Linked DNA regions of Homo sapiens. The protein of the gene in region 1 interacts with the protein of each later gene in a pairwise test. Each region holds a gene or a part of one and is shown in the gene's direction. Other genes may lie near its edges.

Evidence for each region.
Region 2: the proteins of TXLNB (region 1) and CT55 interact in binary tests that used the Homo sapiens proteins (3 or more experiments, as listed by UniProt).
Region 3: the proteins of TXLNB (region 1) and KRT27 interact in binary tests that used the Homo sapiens proteins (3 or more experiments, as listed by UniProt).
Region 4: the proteins of TXLNB (region 1) and MNS1 interact in binary tests that used the Homo sapiens proteins (3 or more experiments, as listed by UniProt).
Region 5: the proteins of TXLNB (region 1) and ZNF20 interact in binary tests that used the Homo sapiens proteins (3 or more experiments, as listed by UniProt).
Region 6: the proteins of TXLNB (region 1) and DCTN2 interact in binary tests that used the Homo sapiens proteins (3 or more experiments, as listed by UniProt).
Region 7: the proteins of TXLNB (region 1) and WASHC3 interact in binary tests that used the Homo sapiens proteins (3 or more experiments, as listed by UniProt).

What each region holds. Positions count from the first base shown.
Region 1 is NC_000006.12:139,260,999-139,264,498, reverse strand, and holds part of TXLNB (beta-taxilin), read left to right. Parts: intron 1-1,725; coding exon 1,726-1,920; intron 1,921-3,500. UniProt on the Homo sapiens protein: Promotes motor nerve regeneration. May be involved in intracellular vesicle traffic.
Region 2 is NC_000023.11:135,164,899-135,168,398, reverse strand, and holds part of CT55 (cancer/testis antigen 55), read left to right. Parts: intron 1-3,500. UniProt on the Homo sapiens protein: Plays a role in spermatogenesis, possibly acting in the regulation of the autophagy pathway.
Region 3 is NC_000017.11:40,776,308-40,779,550, reverse strand, and holds the end of KRT27 (keratin, type I cytoskeletal 27), read left to right. Parts: coding exon 1-49; intron 50-1,818; coding exon 1,819-2,036; intron 2,037-2,248; coding exon 2,249-2,298; intron 2,299-2,412; coding exon 2,413-2,552; 3' UTR 2,553-2,743; downstream 2,744-3,243.
Region 4 is NC_000015.10:56,444,638-56,448,137, reverse strand, and holds part of MNS1 (meiosis-specific nuclear structural protein 1), read left to right. Parts: intron 1-1,194; coding exon 1,195-1,297; intron 1,298-2,254; exon of another isoform or gene 2,255-2,467; intron 2,468-3,464; coding exon 3,465-3,500. UniProt on the Homo sapiens protein: Microtubule inner protein (MIP) part of the dynein-decorated doublet microtubules (DMTs) in cilia axoneme, which is required for motile cilia beating.
Region 5 is NC_000019.10:12,130,850-12,134,100, reverse strand, and holds the end of ZNF20 (zinc finger protein 20), read left to right. Parts: intron 1-115; coding exon 116-1,514; 3' UTR 1,515-2,751; downstream 2,752-3,251. UniProt on the Homo sapiens protein: May be involved in transcriptional regulation.
Region 6 is NC_000012.12:57,533,693-57,537,192, reverse strand, and holds part of DCTN2 (dynactin subunit 2), read left to right. Parts: intron 1-1,347; coding exon 1,348-1,444; intron 1,445-1,647; coding exon 1,648-1,709; intron 1,710-2,038; coding exon 2,039-2,137; intron 2,138-2,740; coding exon 2,741-2,901; intron 2,902-3,095; coding exon 3,096-3,240; intron 3,241-3,500. UniProt on the Homo sapiens protein: Part of the dynactin complex that activates the molecular motor dynein for ultra-processive transport along microtubules. In the dynactin soulder domain, binds the ACTR1A filament and acts as a molecular ruler to determine the length.
Region 7 is NC_000012.12:102,037,992-102,041,491, reverse strand, and holds part of WASHC3 (WASH complex subunit 3), read left to right. Parts: intron 1-1,513; coding exon 1,514-1,624; intron 1,625-3,500. UniProt on the Homo sapiens protein: Acts as a component of the WASH core complex that functions as a nucleation-promoting factor (NPF) at the surface of endosomes, where it recruits and activates the Arp2/3 complex to induce actin polymerization, playing a key role in the fission of tubules that serve as transport intermediates during endosome sorting.

The sequences.
Region 1 (3,500 bases):
GTTATGATTGTTTGTTTGACATTTATTTAGTGCCATCCTATCATCTGTACCTTCTTTCTATAGCCAGTTCCCAATTAAAAAAAAAACAACAACTCAGACTTGCATGGGGTGTTTCATTTATTCATTCATGGAATATTTATAAATACAAACGGTATTCAAATCATGGTCTGTAGTTCTGATTCCAAACTTGCTGACTTCTAAGCTAATCAGGACCAGTGAGGAAACAATCATAATCACACATATATTTAGTTGCTCCTAACTGGTAACCATAATTATTTTTAGCGAAACACATATAGTAAGTGTTAGTATACAAAGTTCAGGGAAATAACATCTCGGATAGTTTATTTCTTCAGTTTAAGAAGTACAGATATCTTCAATACCCCTGAGAAGTTGTTGCTTAATAAAGGTTTATAACATGAATAAATTATGATTCTGACATCAGGAGTCACATTAGAGTTGGGAAATGTGTTGTTATTATAGAGGAAAGAAGAAACCTAATGATAAAATATTTTCAGAGCATATATTCTCAGCATCAGTTTTTATTTGGATCACATTATTCTGTTATGATAAAGGTCTGTACAATTACTTCTGTTAAAAATTATTATTTCTTTTAAAAAATCCTGTTACATAATTTGAACTTGGTAGGCAATCAAATTCAGTATAATTTTACTTGCCAACAACGAAGCAAGCTTTCATATTAACAATTAATCAGAACTGAAAGGAATCCTAAAATGTCTGTATCATTTGTCAGCCACGTAAATGTCTCTATCTTTGGTAGGATGTAGCAAAATTAAACCCTTTTATTCAAAAAGAATAACAATCGCAAAGCAATTCTCAATATAGATATGGAGGAAATTGGAGCTCATTGTTAGTGGCTAGCAATGAATGGAGAGTTTTGATTTAGGAGAAAAGAGAACAGAAATGATATAAAAGTTAATTTGCAATTCTTCAATGTTAACAAAGCGGAAGAAGGAAAATTAGATGTTTCACTTTAGAGTTAAAGAAGATTTGAAACTTAATATTGCTTTCAGATTCAAAATTTACATTGAACATTTTAATTACCCTATGTGACACATTTAATGATTGTTCTTTCAAAAACAAAATAATATCCAGCATGTTTGGAAAGATTCCCTTTTATATTCTTGAATGGCTGTAATTGAGCTATGCTGTCTTAGTTTCCTTTTTTAAAGCTTTTTGATGAAAGTTTTTTCTCACAAATAGAAAATTTTTATTGTGATCACTTATATTTACAAAACTTGGTAATATAATTATGTGGTTAATATGCCATGGTTTTTACAGGGAAATATAAGATCTATTGTTCTCCCTTTACCAAACCAGAGAAACACATGATCTGTCTCATCCATCAGTAAACTCAAGTGGCCTTTTTTTCAGGCCACAGCCAAGAGATCAAAATCGTGTGACTGTGTGTTTGTTAGAAATCGCTGCAGTTCATTCACTCAGCAAGAGACGCATCATCTTTAAAACAAGTCTATTCATCACTGACTACAAATTCAAGGCCTTCACAGCACCTGTTCTGAGTAACTATGTACTCACAGCTGAAACCTTTACTCATACATTTATTTTGGGGCTGAGCAGCTTTAGCTCTAGAGAACTGAGAAAAAACATCCCACCTACTCTGCACACTTATCTCCTTTAGGTGACCTAATGCTGAGTTCTATAAACCCGGGGTGCATTTAAACAAAATGTTTTGCTTTTTATCCGCAGGAAGAGGCGCTTCAGCGGGCACGTGAGGAAGAAGAGAAAAGGAAGGAAATCACAAGCCATTTCCAGAGTACCCTCACGGACATCCAGGGCCAGATCGAGCAGCAGAGTGAGCGAAATATGAAGCTCTGTCAGGAGAACACAGAGCTTGCAGAAAAGCTGAAAAGCATCATCGATCAGTATGAGCTCAGAGAGGAGGTGAGAACCACATCAAACAACTTAGAACAGTACATAGATCCGGATCTGGGAGCTAAAGGTGGGAACTTGGTTAATAAGACAGTTACAGCCAGCCCTCTCAACTGATTAATATTTAGGATTGGATTTCCTTGACGAGCCAAAATGAAGACAGATGGTCTTACAAAATACCTGACTGAAAGTCATATGGGATTTCTTCAAAACTGGCATCACTACAAAGTAAAGGCAATAAATAGAAAGTGATAGGCTGTGGGCACAGTTTTCCTTGAAAATAATATTTCTCAGCCTTTTAAAAATCCTCTCTCTATAGCCAAAAATAACTCACGCACTCCCTCTTAAGAATTGCCATGTCATCTAAATTAAGAGTCTGTATTCTGGCCAGGCGCGGTGGCTCACGCCTGTAATCCCAGCACTTTGGGAGGCCAAGGCAGGTGGATTAAGAGGTCAGGAGTTCGAGAGCAGCCTGGCCAACATAGTGAAATCCCGTCTCTACTACAAATACAAAAAAAAATTAGCCAGGCGTGGTGGTGGGCGCCTGTAATCCCAGCTACTCGAGAGGCTGAGGCAGGAGAATCTCTTGAACCCAGGAGGTGGAGGTTGCAGTGAGCTGAGATCACGCCACTGCACTCCAGCCCAGGCGACAGTGTGAGACTCCGTCTCAAAAAAAAAAAAAAAAAAAAGAGTCTGTATTCTATGTACCCTACCAGGCCAATAATAGTATTAATAATGTAATCATTGTAATAATAATGATATCATTTATTCAGTGGTTAGTTTGTATCAGGCAATGTGCTAAGTGCTGTACTTTACATACCATATGGCATTTAATTGTCTCAACAATCTTATGCATTAGATAATAATATATTATCCATATCTTATAGATGAGAAGCAGAAGCTAAGAGATTAAACCACTTACCCACAGTCACAAGAGGCAAAAGCCTTTTACTTTGAATAGGTTATATTAGGGGGATGATCAAGGTCTTTTGTTATACCCAAATTATATTTTAATATTTAATATATTTTTAAGATTCCAGATACCCTCTCAGGATTTTGACACATCATATTCCTTTCCCTATCCCACCCAAATTTTAAATCTCTGCTTTAAAATGTAACATAACATAGTCAAAGCGGCTCTGTTGGTAACATGCTAAGATTTTATCAAGCACAAAACTGAGCCAACAGCATATGGTCGCGGTGGTTAGGTAAATCAAGAAACTCCTAATAGTAAGCCAAAATGCCATGCTACCATTTTATCTTGTCATAAGGATCAATCCCGCTCCAGAATGGAGGTTCAGACTAAAGAAGATAGGAAGGAGTGAAAGGAAAATGTCCATATTCTTCAGAGAGATCTCAGATGGGAATGGGCTGCTATGCTAGTTGTATATTCCTGGGACTGGTTCTAAGTAAAGCCCAAGGGGAGAATTCCATGTCCTGTTTCTGATTGGACCTCCCAGTGACCAGGAATTTATCCATCCTGAGGTAGAGTTGGAAGTTTCTCTTGACCAAACTAGTCCAGAGGTCAAAAGGTGTGGCGAGCTCTGCACATTTGCGACTCAATTTCTCTATGACCCTTGGCCTTGTCATCT
Region 2 (3,500 bases), on another chromosome or scaffold:
GAGATCAACTTTTTTATCTTCTGCATGTGAATGTGACCGTGCAGTATTTGTCTTTGTGTGACTGGCTTATCTCACTTACATATCATTCTCCAGGTTCATCCAGGTTATTTCAAACGGCAATATTCTGTTCTGTTTTATGGCTGAATAGCATTCCCTTGTGTATTTATACCACATTTCCTTTATACACTCATCCGTAGATGGACACTTAGATTGCTTTCATTTCATAGCTATTGTGAATAGGGCTGCAACAAACATGGAAGTGCTGACATCTCTTTGACACACTGATGACACTCTCTTTGGATACATGCTCAGTAGTGGGATTCATGGATAGTGTGATAGTTCCATTGTTAAAATATTGGGGAATGTCCATACTGTTTTCCATGGTGGCTGTAACAATTTACATCCCACCAACCGTGCATAAAGCTTCCAATTTCTCCACATCCTTGCCAACACTTGTTATATCTTGTCTTTTTAATGTTAGCCATTCTAACATGCGTGACTCGGTATCTCTGTGGTTCCGATATGCATTACCCTGATGATTAGAGAAGGTGAGTGTTTTTTCACATGCCTGTTAGCCATTTGTATGTCTCCTTTTGAGAAATGTCTATTCAGGTCTTTTGCTCATTTTTAATAGGATTATTTGTTTTCTTGCTATTGTGTTGTTGGAGTTACATTTTGGAAACTGACCCCTTACTAGATACATAGATTGTCAATGTTTTCTCCTATCGCATAGATTGTCTCTCCACTCTTTGATTGTTTCCTCTGTGGTGCAGAAGCTTTTTAGTTCAATGTAATCCCATTTGTGTATTTTTCCTTTTCTTGCCTTTGCTTTTGAGGTCCTGTTTTTAAAATATCGTTGCCCAGAACAATGTCATGGAGCTTTCCCCCTATGTCTCCTTCTAGTAGTTTCACAGCTTTGGGTCTTCATTTTAAAGCTTTAAATCATTTTGAGTTGATTTATATACACGCTGAGAGATAAGGGTGGAAATTCATTTTTCTCAGATGAATATCCAGTTATTTTCAACATCATTTATTGAAGAGACTGTACTTTCTCAACATTGTGTGTTCTCGGGCCTTTTGTCAAAAATTAGTTGACTGTAAATGCACAGATTTAATTCCGGGCTCTGTATTCTGCTCCATTGGTTGATGTGTCCGTTTTTATACTGGTACTGTGCTGTTATGCTTACTATAGCTTTGTCATATGTTTTGACATCATAGTGTGATGCCTCCAGCTTTGTTCCTTGTATTCCAGACTGCTTCAGCTGTCTGGAATCTTTCATGGTTCCATACAAATTTTAGGAGTATTTCTTCTATTTCCAAGAAGAATGTCATTGGTATTTTCATAGCAGTTGCATTGAATCTATAGATTGCTTTAGGTTACGGACATTTTAACAATATTTTATTCTTCCTGTTCATGAACACATGATATATTTCCATTCATTCCTGCCTCCTTCAATTTGCTTCGTCAATGGTTTATAGTTTTCAGTGTTGCAATCCTTCACCTCCTTGGTTAAATTTATTCCTATTTTAATTTTTTTGAAGGTGTTGTAAATGGGATTGTTTCTTGATATCTTTTCCAGATAGTTCCCTATTGGTGTATAGAGATACTACTGATTCTTGTATGTTGGTTGTGTCTCATGCCACTTTCCTGAATTTGTTTATTAGACCTAGTAGCTGTTTGGTGGTGTCTTCAGGGTTATTTATAAGTAACAGCTTCCCGTCTGCAAACAGGGCCAATCTAAATTCTTCCTTTTGAATTTAGATGCCTTTTGTTTCTTCTTGCCTAATTTCTCTGGTTAGCACTTCCAGAACTATGTGCGATAGAAAGGGCAAAAGTGGGCATTTCTGTCCTGTTCCAGGTCTTAGAGGAAAAGCCTGCAACACTTCCCCATTCAGTATGATGTTATCTGTGGGTTTATCATATATGACCTTTATTGTGTTGAGGTGCACTCCTCTTATACCTAATTTGTGGAGTTTTTAGTCACGAAGAGGTGTGGAATTCAATCAAATGCTTTTCCTGCTGAAATTGGAATGAACCTATGGCTTTTTTCCTTCATTCTTTTCACGTGATATAGCACATTTATTGATTTGTGTATGTTGAAACTTCCCTGCATCCCAGGGATGAAGTCCTCTAGAACATGGTGAATGATTTTTTTAATGTGCTGTGGAAATTGCTTTACTAATACTTTGTTAAAGATTTTGCAACTGTGTTGATCAGGAATTTTGGCATGTAGTTTTTTTTGGTTTTCTCTTCTTTCTGTTTCCTCATCTGGGTTTTCTACCAGGGTAATGCGTTGTGACAGAATGAGTTCGGAAGTGTTCGTCTCTTGTCCGTTTTTTTTTTTTTTTTTTTTTTTTTTTTGGAATAGGTTTAAAAGTATAGCTATTAATTATTCTTCTTTATATATAAATTTGGTAGTATTAGGAAGGGAAGTCATTCTGTCTTGGACTCTTCACTGATGGGGGATTTTTTATTACTGAATCACTTTCCTTACTCATTAATGGTCTGTTCAGATTTTCCATTTCTTCACCATTACATCTCGGTAGGTTGTATGTGTCCAGGAATGTAGCCATTTCTTCTAGCTTGTCCTATTTGTAGGCAGATGATTGTTCATAATCTTCCTTATGATACGTTTTGTTTTGGTGATGTCATTTGTGCTGTGTCCTTTTTCATCTTTGATTTTAGTTATTTGAATCTTCTCTCTTTTTTCCTTAGTCTAGCTAAAGTTTTGTTGATTTGCTTTACCTCTTCAAGAAACCAAGTCATTGTTTCATTGATATTTGTATTGTTCTTCTCATTTCTATTCATTTATTTCTGCTCTGACCTTTATGATTTCTGTCCTAATTTTGCATTGCATTTTTTTCTTGTTTTTCTAGTTCCCCAAGGTGCAGTGTGAGGTTGTTTATTTAAGATGTATCTTTTCTTTTGAGGTAGGTTTTATTGATGTAAACTTCACTTTTAGAATTGCTTTTGCTGTATTTCATGGGTTTTCGTATGTTGTGCCTTCATTTTGCTTCAACTCAAGAAATGTTTACACTTTGCTTCTAATTTCTTCATTGACCCATTGGTTATTTAGGAGCATGTTGTTTAATTTCCATCCACTTCTAAAGTTTCCAAAGTTCCTACTTTTATTGATTTCTAATACTTTACCGTTGTGGTTAGAGAACTGATTTGATGTTATTTCAAATTCCCTTAATTTGCTAGTACCTGTTTTATGACCTGCCCCATAATCTATCCTCGAGAATGTTCCACATGCAGTTGGAAAGAATATGTGTTTTGGAGTATTTGGATGGAATGTTCTGTAAATGACTGTCAGGTCCATTTGGTCCGGAGTGCAGATAAATCCCACTTTTTGTGGGGTCAATGTTCTGTCGGGACAATCTGTTCATTGCTGCAAGTTGGGTGTTGAAGTCCCCTACTATTACTGCATTGCACTCTATCTCACCATTTATACCTTAATGTCTGCTTCATATATTTAGGTGCTGCTATGTTGGGTGCA
Region 3 (3,243 bases), on another chromosome or scaffold:
ACGCACTCTTCAAACCCTTGAGATTGAACTTCAGTCCCTCTTAGCAACGGTAAGCGAAAAGTTACAAAACAGATTTGCTTTAGAAATTGAGAAAAAAATAATCGAAGAGAATTTTCTTCCAACATAATTACATATTTTAGTTTTTAACCATTAATTACAGTGCTTGACATAAGACATATTTGCATTTTGCACATGACAATCCTCTTTGCCTACAAAGTATAGCTGGATGCCAATAATTATGAAATATTAGAAATTAGCAAATACAGTCAAGATACTGGAAAAAGAAAATCGTTTTGACTTTGAATCTTCTATCATAAGTCAAAATATCAAAAACCACTCATATGTGGAGGCTAAAAAAGTTGATCTCAGAAGTAGAGAGTGGGATAAGTGCTTACTAGAGCCTGGGAAGGGGATGGGGGGATAGGAAGAGGTTGGTTAAAGGATACAAAATTACAGAGAAATAGGGAGAATCAGTTCAAGTGTTCTATAGTACTGTAGAATGACTACAGTTAAGAATAATTTATTCTATAATTTCTAATAGTTCAAGGAGAGGATTTTGAATGTTCCCAACACACACAAAAAAGATAAATGTTTGGGACCATGGATATGCTAACTGCCCTGATTCTATCACTACACATTGTGTGTTTTGAAATATAATTATGGAACCCCATAAATATATACAATTCTTATGTGTCCATTTAAAAAAAAAGAAAAAAAATCCTACTGCTTAAAGAGAGCAAAAATACATTTGCACCACTCCTAGCTTCATCTAGCATTCCTTTTGGCCACTCAATTAAGAGCACTTACAAGTTCCTTTGTAAGTGGCATAGACAGAGGAAAAGTCGAGGCATGAAGGCTGACTATAAAACTAAACATGTGTAATGATAATCATAACTGCTTTCATTAAGGGTTTGCCCAGCACTTCCGCCCACATGTGAGTCCACAACAACCCCGGGGCATGGGCAGGGCAGACGTTATAACTCATGTCATTATTTCCAAAAGAGGACTCTGAGATTCGAAGAAGTTAAGCAATTCCCACAGTCCCACAGTTGGGTATGAAGGAATCCAGAAGTTCTCTCCAAATTTTCTAACTCCCAAGTCTATACTTTTCCCACTATGGCTAGTAAACCACCAGAGTTTATCCACAGATGAGGCTATGAATGTATATAAAATCAAGACTTTATATAAAAAATACTTGCAGGTGAAAGGATAAGACACTCTCATCTTCATTCCATGTAAAATTGCAGTGAGTGTTCCCTCTGAGTATATCTGTAAACCCATTCAGATTCACAAGCCAATGAATTGAACTACTGTATTTAAAGTCTAAGAAGGTAATTATTTTCTGTGGTTTATTCTACTCATGGAACGTTTATGCGGTTTACTGCAGGATGACTTTTTAATAGAAGAGCTACAATCCTCATAAGACAAGACTGTCACATGGCTAGAAATGAGTAGCAAAGTATAGGCGGACTTCTAGTTGTGGGTAAAGTAGCAAATTGTGCCACACTCTACAAGCACAGGCTATATTGGTGCAGGGGAGGGATCTTTCAGTCTGTGCCCTATGAAGAGACAATTTCATCTTTTTTAGCACACCTGGGCATCTGAGGGACATTCAGCACCAGCTGTGTCATTCTCAAATAGAAAAGTAGTAGGACATTTAATAAAGGCAACAATTAATATTGAAGAAGTGGAATCTTTTGGGTAAATATAATTATTTGCATGATGTAAGGATAATTCTCTTAATTATCTCTTAAATGCTTTGGCTTATTCTAAAACACCGTGACCTTTTCTATTAAACCATGTCTTACCAAACTACAGAAACACTCCCTGGAGTGCTCCTTGACAGAGACCGAGAGTAACTACTGTGCACAGCTGGCACAGATCCAGGCTCAGATCGGGGCCCTGGAGGAGCAGCTGCACCAGGTCAGAACCGAGACCGAGGGCCAGAAGCTCGAGTATGAGCAGCTCCTTGACATCAAGGTCCACCTGGAAAAAGAAATTGAGACCTACTGCCTCCTGATAGATGGAGAAGATGGGTCAGTATTGCCGCCATTGAGAAAACAATTCATTTTTAAGGTTACTAAAGATGATTTGAAATCAAGTACAAAATATCTATGATCTAGATCACGCATAGATAATACTCTTTTAGTGTTATTTCAGAATGCAGTGAATTCCCACCTTAAATCATTATTTTTCAGTTTCCTCAGTAAAACAGAATAATTAATATAAGCGCTCTATACTTTTACAGCTCCTGTTCTAAATCAAAAGGCTATGGAGGCCCAGGAAATCAAACAAAAGGTAAACAAAAGCTGTGTTAGGCATTCAGTGTTTATTTGTATGTGTTTCAAATGATGTTTTATTTCCTATTTATGAATTTGATAAATTCTAAACAGTTTATATGTGGCATTTTAGATTCATCTAAAACCACCATTGTCAAAACAGTTGTTGAAGAGATAGATCCTCGTGGCAAAGTTCTCTCATCCAGAGTTCACACTGTGGAAGAGAAATCCACCAAAGTCAACAACAAGAATGAACAGAGGGTGTCTTCCTGAACTCCAGCCTCTGAGACAGAATGGCCCCCAAATTAAAATACCAAAATGAAGCTAGTTTCCTAAATAAGGGTCCCCTTATTTTTCTGCTTTTCTTCCAATGAATTAAGACAAGTTATTTTTAGAATAGTACCATTTCTTTGGCTTTTTCTCTATGGTGGTGTTTCAATAAAAGTTCTTCCTGTTGCAAGTCATCTTCCCTGGTTCTGGCCAATCTTTGCATTTTAGATATACCCTCCCAAATGGAAGCTGAATTTTGTCTTTAATTTCTTCTGTTTAATTCAACAGTCTTCACAAGTTGGAAGTAAGTTTAATGTGAAAACTAGTTGGAGTCTTTTTGACTTCTCTGTAAAATTTTGTCTCCTTTGTCTCAGTACGAAAAGTACTTACTGAGAACACGCTATGTGCCAGATAACGAGGATAAAACAGTTAATAAGATCCAGTCCCTGAAGTCAATATGCTCATAGATGTAGAAATAAGAACCTGAAGAATCAGAAACAAACTTAAACATAAAGGAAAGGCTATAAGTAGTGATATTTGAAGGTAGAAGGGGAAAAAGAGAGCTGTGAGGACAAGGGTAAGAGGAGAATTCCAGCAGGCATCTAATTCATAATCTTGATCACTCCACCATAACGGTAGGAATTCACAAGTTCTCTCCTTCGTTTTTGCCATCCAAGACTGCAGAGCCATGTGG
Region 4 (3,500 bases), on another chromosome or scaffold:
CCTGTGACCACAAATAACTGGTACTCAAATTTCCATAGCAGCTTTATTTGCAATATCCACATACCTGAAACAACTCAAATGTCTATCAGCATGTGAATAGATAAGCAATGCGAGTGGATATCTATAATCTTAAAATAATATCCTGCAATAAAAAGGAGTAAGCAATTACTATATGCAATAAATGGATGTATTTGAAAATATTGAGTGAAAGAAGCCAGAGAAAAATGGTACCTGCACTATGATTCCATTTATATGAATTCTAGAAAATTTATACTGCCTAAGGTGACAGCAAATTAGCTTGCCTCAGGATAAGTGCGAACATAAAGGGGTAGAAGAGAGGTACCACAGGTTTATAAGGAAGTGATTGGGACGTGTTCATGATCTTGATTGTGGTGATGGTTTCACAGGTGCATACATATGTAAAAACTTATCAAACTGTATCCTTTAAACATGTTCAGTTTATTGAATATTGTAGATCAGTAAAACTGAAAACTAAAAAATATATTCAGTGATATTGTTGGGTATAAATTTAGTATATAAACATTAATTGTATTTCTGTAAATTATCAACAATTAGAAAGTGAGATTTGAAAAATAATCTACAGAAGGATATGAAAAATACCTAATGAAAAGTATAAAACTACCAAAATAAAACACAGATATAAACATCGATAGACTTTTAAAAAACCAAATAATTAGAAGGATATACTATGTTTATTGAAGACTCAGTAATGTAAAGATATTAGTACTTTCCAAATTGATTTATGAATTCAGTACTATCACAGCCAGTTTTGTTTATTGTGAAGTCTGACAAGCTGATTCTAAAATGTATATGGAAATGAAAGTATCAAGAATGGCTAAGACAGTCTCTAAGAAGATGACCAAAATTGGAGACTTATCCATGATATGTAGACGTATTATAATTTACAGCAGTTGAGATAGTGTGGTATTGACACAGGATAAGCAAACAGATGAATGTAATAGAACAGAGCAGTACTTTTCAACCAGAAAATGTAAGCCCTAATGCCCTAAAGGCATCCATTAAATATAATGAATTATTTCTCCTATGGATCTAAAATAATACCCGCTGTATTCCCTCTTTGAGTAAATTAAAAATACAGTTACTCAGTTTTCTGTGAGGTTTTCATTCTCTTATGGTCCTAACATTTAAATTTGTTTTTGTTTTTTTAAACAGCATTGAGCTTAGAGAATTGGAGAAGAAATTAAAAGCAGCTTACATGAATAAAGAAAGGGCAGCTCAGATTGCTGAAAAGGATGCCATTAAATATGAACAAATGGTAATCATGTTTCTGGTCATTATGTTTTTAGCTTCATTTAGAAAATAAAAATTAGACTTGTTTCTTAAAAAATTGTCATATTGTATAAAGAATTTACACTGCTAGATTTCTTAAATATTTGTAAATTTTCAGATCCTTAAGATGTAGAAAATCCTGCGTGATTTCATTTTTAATATTAGAGCCTTTCAGAAACACATTGCTGCTTAGAATGACCAGCTATATTCAGTAACTCCCAGCATTCTTTATAGTCTCTAACTGATTATTCACTGACAAAGTAGTACAGTACAAATTGTTACCATGATAAGTGTATTTTAGAATGTTATGAAATTTTTAATTATTTAAATGTTTTTAAGAGTAAACTACTTGATAATTTTATGTAGGAAACTTTCCAGTTTTATAAAAGCCATCTCTTTTTCTCATGTTTCTCTCTGCTTTTATCCCCTTTTCTAACTCCTGATATGGTACCAAGTTGAAGATAAGAGTTACTCTTGGGCAAAGGAATCTCAGGCATACTCACTAGGAGTGCTTTGCTGTATGAATATATAATAGGGTTTACTGAATTAACAGTTAATTAAAAGGGTGCACATCATCCCTTGAGCTCTCATTATCAAACAGAAGGGCCAATTATATATGAATGTTTATATACACATACATATCTATTGTGTATGTCCACATAAACATATGTACACACACACACACTCTTATGGGGTGATATCAAAATACTTAACCAGTGCAGTGCAATATGGGTATCAATTAAGAATAGATACCATAAATGACACATATATGTGTGTGTTGCGTGTGTACAATTGTGTTAGTATAGAAAATGTCTAGCGGGTACACAGCATGCTGTTAACAGGAATACCTTTAGGTGTGGCAGGTGATAAGAAAAGGTGGAGAGACTTCATTTGCTAAGCCATATAGCGCTGTCCTTTGAAAAAGAAAGTAGCACAAACAATGTCCTGTTTGTCCAGTGGTTTGCAGTTTTAATTATCCTGATAGTTGAAGTTATTCAAGGTAGTTGTAGACGTTTTAATCTGACTCCTACGAGAATTGCTGCTATTTTCCAAATAAAAATTGATCCACAAAATGAAAGTCGAATACTACTAGGACTTGACTAGGTGTCATGCAAGTACTAGTTTTGGCTTTTTCTCTGAGCCTTAGTTTTCTTATCTGTAAAATGAGAACATTGTTTTCGGTAAGTGTGTGGTAATCTACACATAAATGTTATTGTCATCTCATTTTTTAATAAAGAATTTAGTATAGCATGTACAAAGAAGATAATCAGAAACATTTTTGGTCAAGTCATATTATCAGAGTATATGTTAAAGGCTTCAGTGACGTCAGGAATGACATTCAGTATTCATATTTTAATCTGTTTACTCTTTATGTTTGATGCTGCTGACCATTCCATCATTCGGGATGTGATCATAAAAGTAAAGCGTAGTTTAAAAAATTGCCTCAGTATATTTCATTTAAAACTTATTTTATTAAATGATTTGAAAAATGCTCAAAAGAAATAAGGGGTTTAACCCATCCAAGAAGAAAGATTGTCTCTTGACAATGGGAATGGTCTTGAGTGAATTAAAAGCTGTAGAAAATAGGCACAGTAGCATCTGTGATTCTTTTCAGATAAAGGGCCTTTAATAAATCAGAAAGGGGAAACGTCAAGGGCCAATGGCAGGAAAGAAAGTTTAGGCTAGGAGAAACTTAAGAGCTGCTCAAAGCCATTTAATAGCAGACCTGTAAGAAAGAGGCAGTACCATCTTTAAATAGCAGCTGATAAACAATGAAGCTAAAAACGATGAAAATTGCCTAGCTCAGTTTATAAATAGAATAATAAGATAATGACTGCTTTAGCAGCTAAATAGTTATTAAGAAACTACTTACAATTGTATTCATTGTTTTTTGAATGTGGAGTTATTAATAATCCTTATCAGGTATTGTCCTGAGAGAGCTACTTGAAGGGATAGGAAAGCTGCTTTAGGGTCTGACTTATTGTTCACACCCTTCAGGTAATAATAACTTACTTTTGCTTTTTAACCTAGACAGATGAAAAAATTTATTTTATGTAAAAGACTTTATAATATTCAATAACATTGGTGTAAAATATACTATCGTACTATGTTCAAATTTGAAAACGGAAAGATCAATTTTGTTTTAATAACAGAAACGTGATGCTGAAATAGCCAAAACCATGATGGAA
Region 5 (3,251 bases), on another chromosome or scaffold:
CTGCCCACCTCAGCCTCCCAAAGTGCTGGGATTACAGGAGTGAGCCACTGTGCCCGGCCCTATAAGTCACTTTTAATCAAACCGTTAATAATGTGCTTCTCATTTTTCACTGAAGTCTTATGAGAGAGAAACTCTGTGAAAGTAAAGAAAGTCATCACTGTGGAGAAAGCTTCAACCAGATTGCAGATGACATGCTGAACAGGAAAACTCTTCCTGGAATAACACCATGTGAAAGCAGTGTGTGTGGAGAAGTTGGCACGGGTCATTCATCTCTTAATACGCATATCAGAGCTGACACTGGACACAAGTCATCTGAGTATCAGGAATATGGAGAGAATCCATATAGAAATAAGGAATGTAAGAAAGCCTTCAGTTATCTTGACTCCTTTCAATCACATGATAAAGCTTGCACTAAAGAGAAACCCTATGATGGTAAAGAATGTACAGAAACCTTCATTTCCCATTCATGCATTCAAAGACACAGGGTAATGCACAGTGGAGATGGACCTTATAAATGTAAGTTTTGTGGGAAAGCCTTCTATTTTCTCAATTTATGTCTTATCCATGAACGAATTCACACTGGTGTGAAACCATATAAGTGTAAACAATGTGGTAAGGCCTTTACTCGTTCCACTACCCTTCCAGTACATGAAAGAACTCACACAGGAGTGAATGCCGATGAATGTAAAGAATGTGGGAATGCATTCAGTTTTCCTAGTGAAATTCGTAGACATAAAAGGTCTCACACTGGAGAAAAACCCTATGAGTGTAAGCAATGTGGGAAAGTCTTCATTTCTTTCAGTTCCATTCAGTATCATAAGATGACTCACACTGGAGAGAAACCCTATGAATGTAAGCAGTGTGGGAAAGCCTTTAGATGTGGCTCACACCTTCAAAAGCATGGAAGGACTCACACTGGAGAGAAACCCTATGAATGTAGGCAATGTGGTAAAGCCTTCAGATGTACCTCGGACCTTCAAAGGCATGAAAAGACACACACTGAGGATAAACCCTATGGATGTAAGCAGTGTGGGAAAGGCTTTAGATGTGCTTCACAACTTCAAATTCATGAAAGGACGCACAGTGGAGAGAAACCCCATGAATGTAAGGAATGTGGAAAAGTATTCAAGTATTTTTCTTCCTTGCGTATACATGAAAGGACGCACACTGGAGAGAAGCCCCATGAATGTAAGCAATGTGGAAAAGCATTCAGGTATTTCTCTTCCTTGCATATACATGAAAGGACACACACTGGAGATAAGCCATATGAGTGTAAGGTATGTGGCAAAGCCTTCACTTGTTCCAGTTCCATTCGATATCATGAAAGGACTCACACTGGAGAGAAACCCTATGAATGTAAGCACTGTGGTAAGGCCTTTATTTCCAATTACATTCGATATCATGAAAGGACTCACACTGGAGAGAAACCCTATCAATGCAAGCAATGTGGCAAAGCCTTTATTCGTGCCAGTTCATGTCGAGAACATGAAAGAACTCATACCATTAATAGATGAGAAATCCTTTTAGTGGAAGCAACGGGAGAAGCTTTCTGTTGTCCCACTTCCTTTGAAACACAAGAAAAGAGAGTGGTGAAAGAACCTCTGGATAACTGCTTTTTGAATTGAGAAGAGAGACTTGCGATAGGACAATAAAATCTAGAAGAACTTGGATGGTTTCGTAATACAATTCACCTATAGCCAATCTTGCATGAGATTTCAAAGGCACAGAAAAGGAAGGCATCAGTCACATATTAGAGGCCCCACACAGGGAGAGAGGTGTGTGGCTACCCGCTTCCAGCCCATTTTCCTGATTCTTTGGCTTGTTAATCGAGAATATCCCCCAAATCACTTGTCTCTGTTCCTCAGAGTTGTAGGTCTCCAGATATGTCCCCAGTGCTCCACATTAAAGATACATGCCCACTTTGCTGTTTCTTCAGAAATGTTAAAATGTTTACCAGAGAACTAATAAATGTTGTTATGGCTGGAAATACTCACTGATGCCCAACTCTTCTATAGATTGAGTTGGTTTAAGAGGTCTACTTTGTATTGCAAGCATTGTTGTTTCTACGGATTAGCGAGCCTGTTCTTGATTAAACCAACTAGATGGGAGCTTGTTCCTCTGCTGCATTGTGCAGTGATTGGTCTCACCAAGGGCTTTTATGTGAGAAGAGCCACCTTGCTCTTATCAGGAAATTTCAAGCATTTGCTGTTATTCACAACTGAATGTAATGTCTCACTTCGTTTTTAACTTTGTATGAGTATACCTGACTAAAAACACTAATGCGGTTTCTTGGCAACAAATACTTCTGTTCATGTATTTTAGAAATAAGCTTATTAACTGTTTATAACAACTGCATACTAACAATTATTATTTTTTAATGAAGAAGCTACATTACAACCTCCCATTAACATCATGTATTAGATCAAGTTGATAATGTTACCATGTTATCCGGTGGTCACTGTGAGTCAGTGTTGCCATGTGGATGTCAGGCATATTTTTCCTCATGTAGATTTTACTTTTCATGCTTATATTCTTAGTTTTTATCTGGATCATGAATTTTCATCTATTCTAAATACCAAAGGTGATCTCATGTTCTTATGAGTGACTTCTGACCAAAGACCACCAGTGGCATAAGTGTCGTCAAAGAGGGTGTAATAATATACTGTGGTAATGAATATGACCAAAAGCCATAGATGACTGTGAGATGTGTGAGATATTAAAAGATAGTCACATTTCGTGAGAAGAGAAAAATTTGGGGTATGTTTGCAATTTAAAGTGTTTTCTTCTGTCACATTTCAAGACATGGTTAAAGAATGAGGTTTTTTTTTATTTTAATTTTTTTTTTTTTGAGACGGAGTCTTGCTCTGTCGCCCAGGCTGGAGTGCAGTGACTCGATCTCGGCTCATTGCAAGCTCCGCTTCCTGGTTCACGCCATTCTCCTGCCTCAACCTCCCAAGTAACTGGGACTACAGGTGCCCGCCACCGCGCCTGGCTAATTTTTTGTATTTTTAGTAGAGACAGGGTTTCACCATGGTCTCGATCTCCTGACTTCGTGATCCACCCGCCTCGGCCTCCCAAAGTGCTGGGATTACAGGCATGAGCCACTGTGCCCTGCCAAGAATTAGTTATTTTTGTATTGATCCATCATGGTCACTGAAGAGCATCATCTCACATTGCAGGTGTATGACATGTGCCTGTTCAGGGGCAAAAGACTCGGCCTTCTGGCGAGGGGAGGCCAGCCATCAGACTTC
Region 6 (3,500 bases), on another chromosome or scaffold:
CCAGCTATTTTATATTTTTTGTAGAGTTGGGGTTTCCCTATGTTGCCCAGGCTGGTCTTGAACTCCTGAGATCCACCCGCCTTGGCCGAACTTTGGGAGGCCGAGGCGGGTGGATCACTTGGAATTAGGATCCTCCCAAAGTGCTGGGACTACAGACAGGCTTGAGCCACCATTGCCCGGCTGTCTATTTAAAAAAAAAAAAAAATTATAAGTGATTCTAACATGCAGCCTGGGGTGAGAACCATTGTTCTAGGTGAAAGAAGGAAGGCTCATTTTGCCTTCCTCCCATAGAAGGTAGAGATGTCATCCCCAACAGAAAAGGACTCCTGGGTCTCCCTCCTACTTCCATCAGTACTCTGTTGGGAGCTGTCAGGCTTCTGACAATTGAAAAAGGGACATGCAGTCAGGAGTGCTTGGTGCAGTCTTGGTGTTGTCACTGGAATCTGAACAGCATGTAGATATCTAGTAAGGAGGGAACCTCTCTGCTTCAGTTTCTAGGGTGAAGTCTCTTTCACCGCCTACTTGTGTCCCCTGTTTTTGGAAGAGCTTCAGTGCTTAAAGCATAGCAGAGGAGTCAGGGAGAAAAATCAGGTGCTGCAGCGTCTCTGAAGAGATGCTGGTTTATCTCCATTTCAGAGCTTACATGTGGCTCTTGCCCATGGATACTCTTGGCAAGCAGATATTGCCTATGTTTGTTGCTTCTAAGATGTCCCATAAAGATAATCCAGTAAGCCCTTGCCCCTTCTCCCTGTCCCTGAGTTCGCTGGCCTCATGGCAGCCTGGAAATCAGGCTTCTGGTCAGGCCCTCTGTCGGCCTTCTTTTTGTACTAAGAGCTTGTGTCTTACCTTCAACAGGTTTAAAGTCCTAATATTCACACTCAGTGTTAGTGGCCTGATTATCTGCCTTCCCTCCTCTTTCCTTCTAGCAAGGATGGGAGGTTAGCATTAAAATGGACTTGCTCAGCGGGCAAGATTTACTTTTGGGAGGGGGAGGTTAAAAGAGGTCAGGTTGGTTTCTTGCCTTGAGTGCATGGCGTGTGCCAGACAACTGGGAGGGGTAGCATGGGGGGATGGGAAGGCTTATGTACAGAGAGGGTGGGGAGGTTATGCTCCCTCTGCTCCCAGTTGAATGAGGGTGTTAATATTTATACAACTGAGGCTCCAAATTTACCAGGAAGCTTCAGTTTCCTAGGTTAAGCCTGGGTAGGCGCCTTGGAATAGAGCCACCCTTCTTTCCCCTTGGACAAGTAGGGCCCAGTCACCTAATGGTTTGGGGATTTTGTGGGGTAGAGTAAGTTCTAGAGTGGGAATGAGTGTGTCCCTGGCCTAAACTACCTGTTCTTGCAGGAGGAGCTGACAAGCACAAGTGTGGAACACATCATTGTCAATCCTAATGCTGCCTATGACAAGTTCAAGGACAAGAGAGTGGGGACAAAGGGACTTGGTGAGACTGGGCTGGAAGCTGGGTGGGGGGAAGACTGGAGGATAAGCATGAGAAGTGGTTTCCTGTCCTAAAGTCTTAGTGAGTTGTGCTTGGGGGAAGGGGTCCCTCATGGAGATATTTTATGGAAGCCCTCACAGTCACCTGAGACCATGACTGCCTTGGGCCTAGATCAGGCCCTCAGTTCCATCTTCTTTTCTTGGCAGATTTCTCAGATCGTATTGGAAAAACCAAGAGGACAGGATATGAATCTGGAGAATATGAGATGGTTTGTTGTGTGTGTGTGTGTGTTGATGGGAATGGTGTAGTGACCCTATCTAGCAGACATGTAGTAGGGAGATCAAGGGATACAGGCGGGATTCTGTTCCTCCTCTGTTCCTGAGGAAGCAGCAGGATGCAGCCAGGGAAACTCTGCCCTACTGCTGTTTGTTCTGGAGAGCCTCCAGCCCTCTAGCTGTCCTCAGTTCTTTGGTACTAGGGTGTTGTGGATTCTCAATTGGATATGATACCTTTATGACTTAGGCCCAGGGTGTGGATGAATTCTTGAGGCTCCCTGTAATGAGACATATAACATTACCCTCTGTGCCTGCTCTCTAGCTTGGAGAGGGTCTGGGAGTGAAGGAGACACCCCAGCAAAAGTACCAGCGCCTACTGCATGAGGTCCAAGAGCTGACAACTGAAGTTGAAAAAATCAAGGTAACTACAAACTCTCTTCTCCCTTCTCTGCTGTGACTTACACAGTAGAGGAAGACCTCAAGCAAGAAGAGAAAGATTCCCTGCCTGGCTGGGTGCGGTGGCTCACGCCTATAATCCTACCACTTTGGGAGGCCGAGGCAGGCGGATCACCTGAGGTCAGGAGTTCAAGACCAGCCAGGCCAACATGATGAAACCCCATCTGTACTAAAAAAATACAAAAACTTAGCCAGGTGTGGTGGCGCATACCTGTAATCCCAGCTACTCGGGAGGCTAAGGCAGGAGAATTGCTTGAACTCGGAGGCGGAGGTTGCAGTGAGCCCAGATCATGCCACTGCACTCCAACCTGGGTGACAGAGCGAGACTCCATCTCAAAAAATGAAAGAAAGAAAGATTCCTTAAGCTCCTGGATAAAGGGGCTAAGGTTTCCAGAGTTTACAAATATGCATCCATCTGTATGCAGTGCTACATACAGGTGGGCAGTCTGTCATGCTGAAAACCATCCCAGTGACCTCCAGCTACAACTACCTTTAAAGGGCTTGACCTATTTTTTTGCTTCTTGATTCATTCTTGCCATCCCCCGATTTCTACCTTTTTTCATACTAGACGACAGTGAAGGAGTCAGCCACAGAGGAGAAGCTGACCCCTGTGTTGCTGGCTAAACAGCTGGCAGCCCTGAAGCAGCAGCTGGTTGCTTCCCACCTGGAGAAGCTGCTGGGACCAGATGCTGCAATCAACCTTACCGACCCCGATGGCGCCCTGGCTAAGTGGGTACCCTACTTTGTTGAAAAATCATTGCTGACTGGGGTTGTGGATGGACTCAGCCAGCTACTGACAGGGGTGCTAAGTGGCAGAGAAGTGGCTTAGATGTTTCTTAATGCTGATTATGAGGCAAAAGTGAGGGAGAGTGACTGGCCCTTCTCCTTCCAGTCATGATATTATTACTCGGTCTCCTAACTAGGCGCCTACTACTGCAGCTGGAAGCAACAAAGAACAGCAAAGGGGGATCAGGGGGAAAAACCACTGGGACCCCCCCAGATAGCAGCCTTGTCACTTATGAACTACATTCTCGGCCTGAGCAGGACAAGTTCTCTCAAGCTGCCAAAGTAAGTGTGGATACAGTGTTGGTTGGGAAGCCAAGGGGAGATGTGACCCTAGAGATTTTCCTGCCTCTCTCCAAGGAGAGGGTGCTGGGAAGGCTTCTGATTCCTCTGATTCCTCTTGATTGATTCCTCTTTTGATTCCTGATTCGTTGTTCTCTATGTTTCTTTCTTTTTTTTTTTTTTTTGAGACGGAGTCTTGCACTGTTTCCCAGGCTGGAGTGCAGTGGCGCAATCTTGGCTCACTGCAAGCTCCGCCTCCCGGG
Region 7 (3,500 bases), on another chromosome or scaffold:
TCATGGTTCAGATTTCATCATTATTCACAATAGAATATCCAATTGTGCAGAGTGAGATTGATTTGAGAATAAATGAAGGACAGTTGAGAGATATGATAGAGGATTTAATGGGTCATTCAAATAGCAAAGGTGTAATACATTTCATAATTAAACCTTGTTGAGGTCTTGGTTATTAGGCAAAAGTTAACGACTGAGAATTGATATCTGGCCAGGATGTAGTTCATTTGCACCATTTTGCTATTATATGAGTTTAATTTCCATAAATTGTTAAAAAACATACTTGGTTATTGTTTTAATTTTTTATTTAATTAACAGTGTTTTGGAATTTTTGTATTTGTATTATAGATGAATATGTGTGTGTGTGTGTGTATATATATGTATATATATATACTCACTTTGGTAAAACTTAGCAATATCATGTAACAGAAGAAACCTAAAGGATTTTTGGATGTTTATTTGCTTTGTAGTTTTTGACAGATTTAATTTATATTTGAATTATCTGAGGAAAAACTTCAATATGTAATTCACATTCATAGTCTAAAGACTATGAAGATATAAAGATATTGATTTATCTACATTTCAGAATGAACAATAGACATAAAATTGATTTCTTCTAAGGAAATTCTTTTAATGCTTATATACAGATAATGAGAGAGATTCACCAAAGTAAGCTTTTTCTAAATGTTTGGTTTGATAGAAAAATCAAGTACTGTATACAGGCAGTTCTATCTAGTTTTGCATTTAAGCAAGGATATGGTTCTCATATGCACAAGTTTCAGTAACATGGTACCATGCAAAATGAAGACTGCCTGTATAACAATAGCATTTTTATCTAAAAAGACCATTCCCCAGTATTCTTTATTGTAAGTCATATTTAGTATGACATTATGACTTTTAACCACTCTGTAGACAATGTTACCATTAATAGTTCCATCAGTATCTGAAATGTATAAAACCAGATAATTTTGTCTGACAAACTGGCTTCTCTTTTACAACTTCTCCAAAAATTGCTTTCTAAAAGTTAGAAGAGCCATGTCCACTTAGAATAAAATGATTTAATAAATAAAGGGCTCAATTAGGTAGATTCTAGATACCTAGGAAATCAATTCATCATTATCTCAATAAATTTATTATTAATTTGTAAACAGTTGATAGTTTTATTAGCTTTCTTAAAAGTTTTGTTAAAATAGTATCACCACCTATATATAATTCATGCTTTGTATCAGCACTCTGGGGACAAGTAAAGCAGAATTTTTATTTTAATGCATGAATATACTTGCATTTTAAGGAACCAATATAGTGTTGAAATGTAACCTTCTCTGAAATGATATTTAAATATTTGTAGATATTTGGAAACATATCTCATATTAAATTATTGGTATTTAAATTGGGGGAGATGATTTTTTTCTGCAATTTACTGCCTTAGAATTATGGAAAGAAACATTCCTTTTAAGTAACATGATAGACCCCTTTTGTAAATTGTCTAAAGATTTACACCAAATACTCTCTACAGCAGAACAGTACACAAGACTCTGGACTACAGGAAAGTGAAGTATCAGCAGAAAATATCTTAACTGTAGCCAAGGATCCAAGATATGCCAGATATCTCAAAATGGTTCAAGTGGTAAGCTAACTTGGTCTGTCTTCTTTGTGTAGCAGCCTCACTTGAAATTCTTAACCCTGGAGGTTTTACTGTTATTTTTTTCAATCTGAGAAAACTGCTAAACCAAGTAACCAAGTTTTCTATTCTCTTACTTCCTTTCTATTTTAATTCTCTGATTAAAAAAAAAAAAGGAAGTCAAATCTTTAGAATTGATCCCACACTTTAAATTAACATAGTTTAATATAGATTTATGTACATTTTTTTGCATTACACAAAGTTATCAATGCAAATCTTAGATACAGAAAGTAATGAAAGTAGACTATTCATTTGGTAAATCAGTTGACTCTAGCTTAATCCCCATATTATTAGCACAAATAATATTTTTTAAAAATTTTTATGTTTATCAATGATCTCTTGGCCATGTGTAATGCTTTTAATATTATATGACTTCAGAATTCATATTTTTCCTGAGAAATCATAACATGCTGTGGTACCAAAAATATCTGCAGTTGTCTGTGATAGCAGAAGCTAACATTTTTTTATTCCTTTAGAAAGTATTTCAGTAGTTGAAAGAGGTAGTTGTCCATCATTTTTCTGTTAATCAAACAGTTAAAGCCTGGCGCAGTGACACACACCTCTAATCCTAGCACTTTGGGAGGCTGAGGTGGGAGGATGACTTGAAGACAGGAGTTTGAGACCAGCCTGGGCAACAAAGCAAGACCACCTACTTCTACATTAAAAAAAAAAAAAAAAAAAAAAACCTAACTCCATATGATGGCATGCACCTGGTAGTGCCAGCTACTCAAGAGGCTGAGGTGGGAGGATTGCTTGAGCCCAAGAGTTCAAGGGTGCAGTGGCTCACCTCACTGATTGTGCCACTGTACTTCAGCGTAGGTGACAGAGCAAGACCCTGTCTCAAAAAATAATAATAATAATAATAATGCTTTTGTAAAATTATATTATCAAGCAAAAGAAGCACAATACTAATACTAAAGGACAGTTTTGTTTTGCTGTCCATGGGATAGTTTATCACCTAGTAATTTAAAAGCAAATTCTGACAACCAGAAAGAGTAGATTGGCTCATTTGGAAGCTGCACTTTTCCTAGCTATCAGAAGTGGATTTTTCACTTCCACAGTTCTTTTTTTCTGAAGCCTAGAGCTCAGGATATTGGCGGTCAATTTAGAAAAAAATAAACCAGACTTTGGGATGAAAATAGATGAAGTTTTTTTAATTAACAAGAATAAAACAAAGCCAGTTTAAGTATGAATCATGATGAACACGTTTTTAAAGCTAGAACCCAGGAAAGCCTAAGCTTAAAAGATAGACTTGTTAAAAAACAACAACAACAACAACAACAACAAAAACTATTTCACTCTTTTAAACAAAAGGGAGATGCTTCTAAATGACTCAGAAAGATTTTTTATGTTAGCCCCTTCTTGCCAAACCTATATAAAATAACAAACAGGAAAATCTACTAGGTGATACTCTGTAAAAATGCCCTGAAATCTTTATGAAGGCTGCATCTTAGGATAACTGTTAAATTCTTGATAATTGTCTTCAATTTTATAAGAACTTCAAAAAATCTTTTTCTTTTTAAATCCACCATCTGTTTATTTCACAAATATTTATCAAACACTTACTTGAAGCTAAGCTACTGTATTAGGTATTATCTAGATTTATTTAGCCAACTAAGGTTTCCAGATACCACTTGCAATTTTTATTTTTGTTACTAATTACGTCAACAAGTTCAATTGCTTTTCAGTCATAAATATACATATAAAATAAATGACCCGGGCCGGGCATGGTGGCTCACTCCTGTAATCCCAGCACTTTGGGAGGCCGAGGCGGGCGGATCACTTGAGGTCGGGAGTTTGAGACCAACCTGACCAACATGGA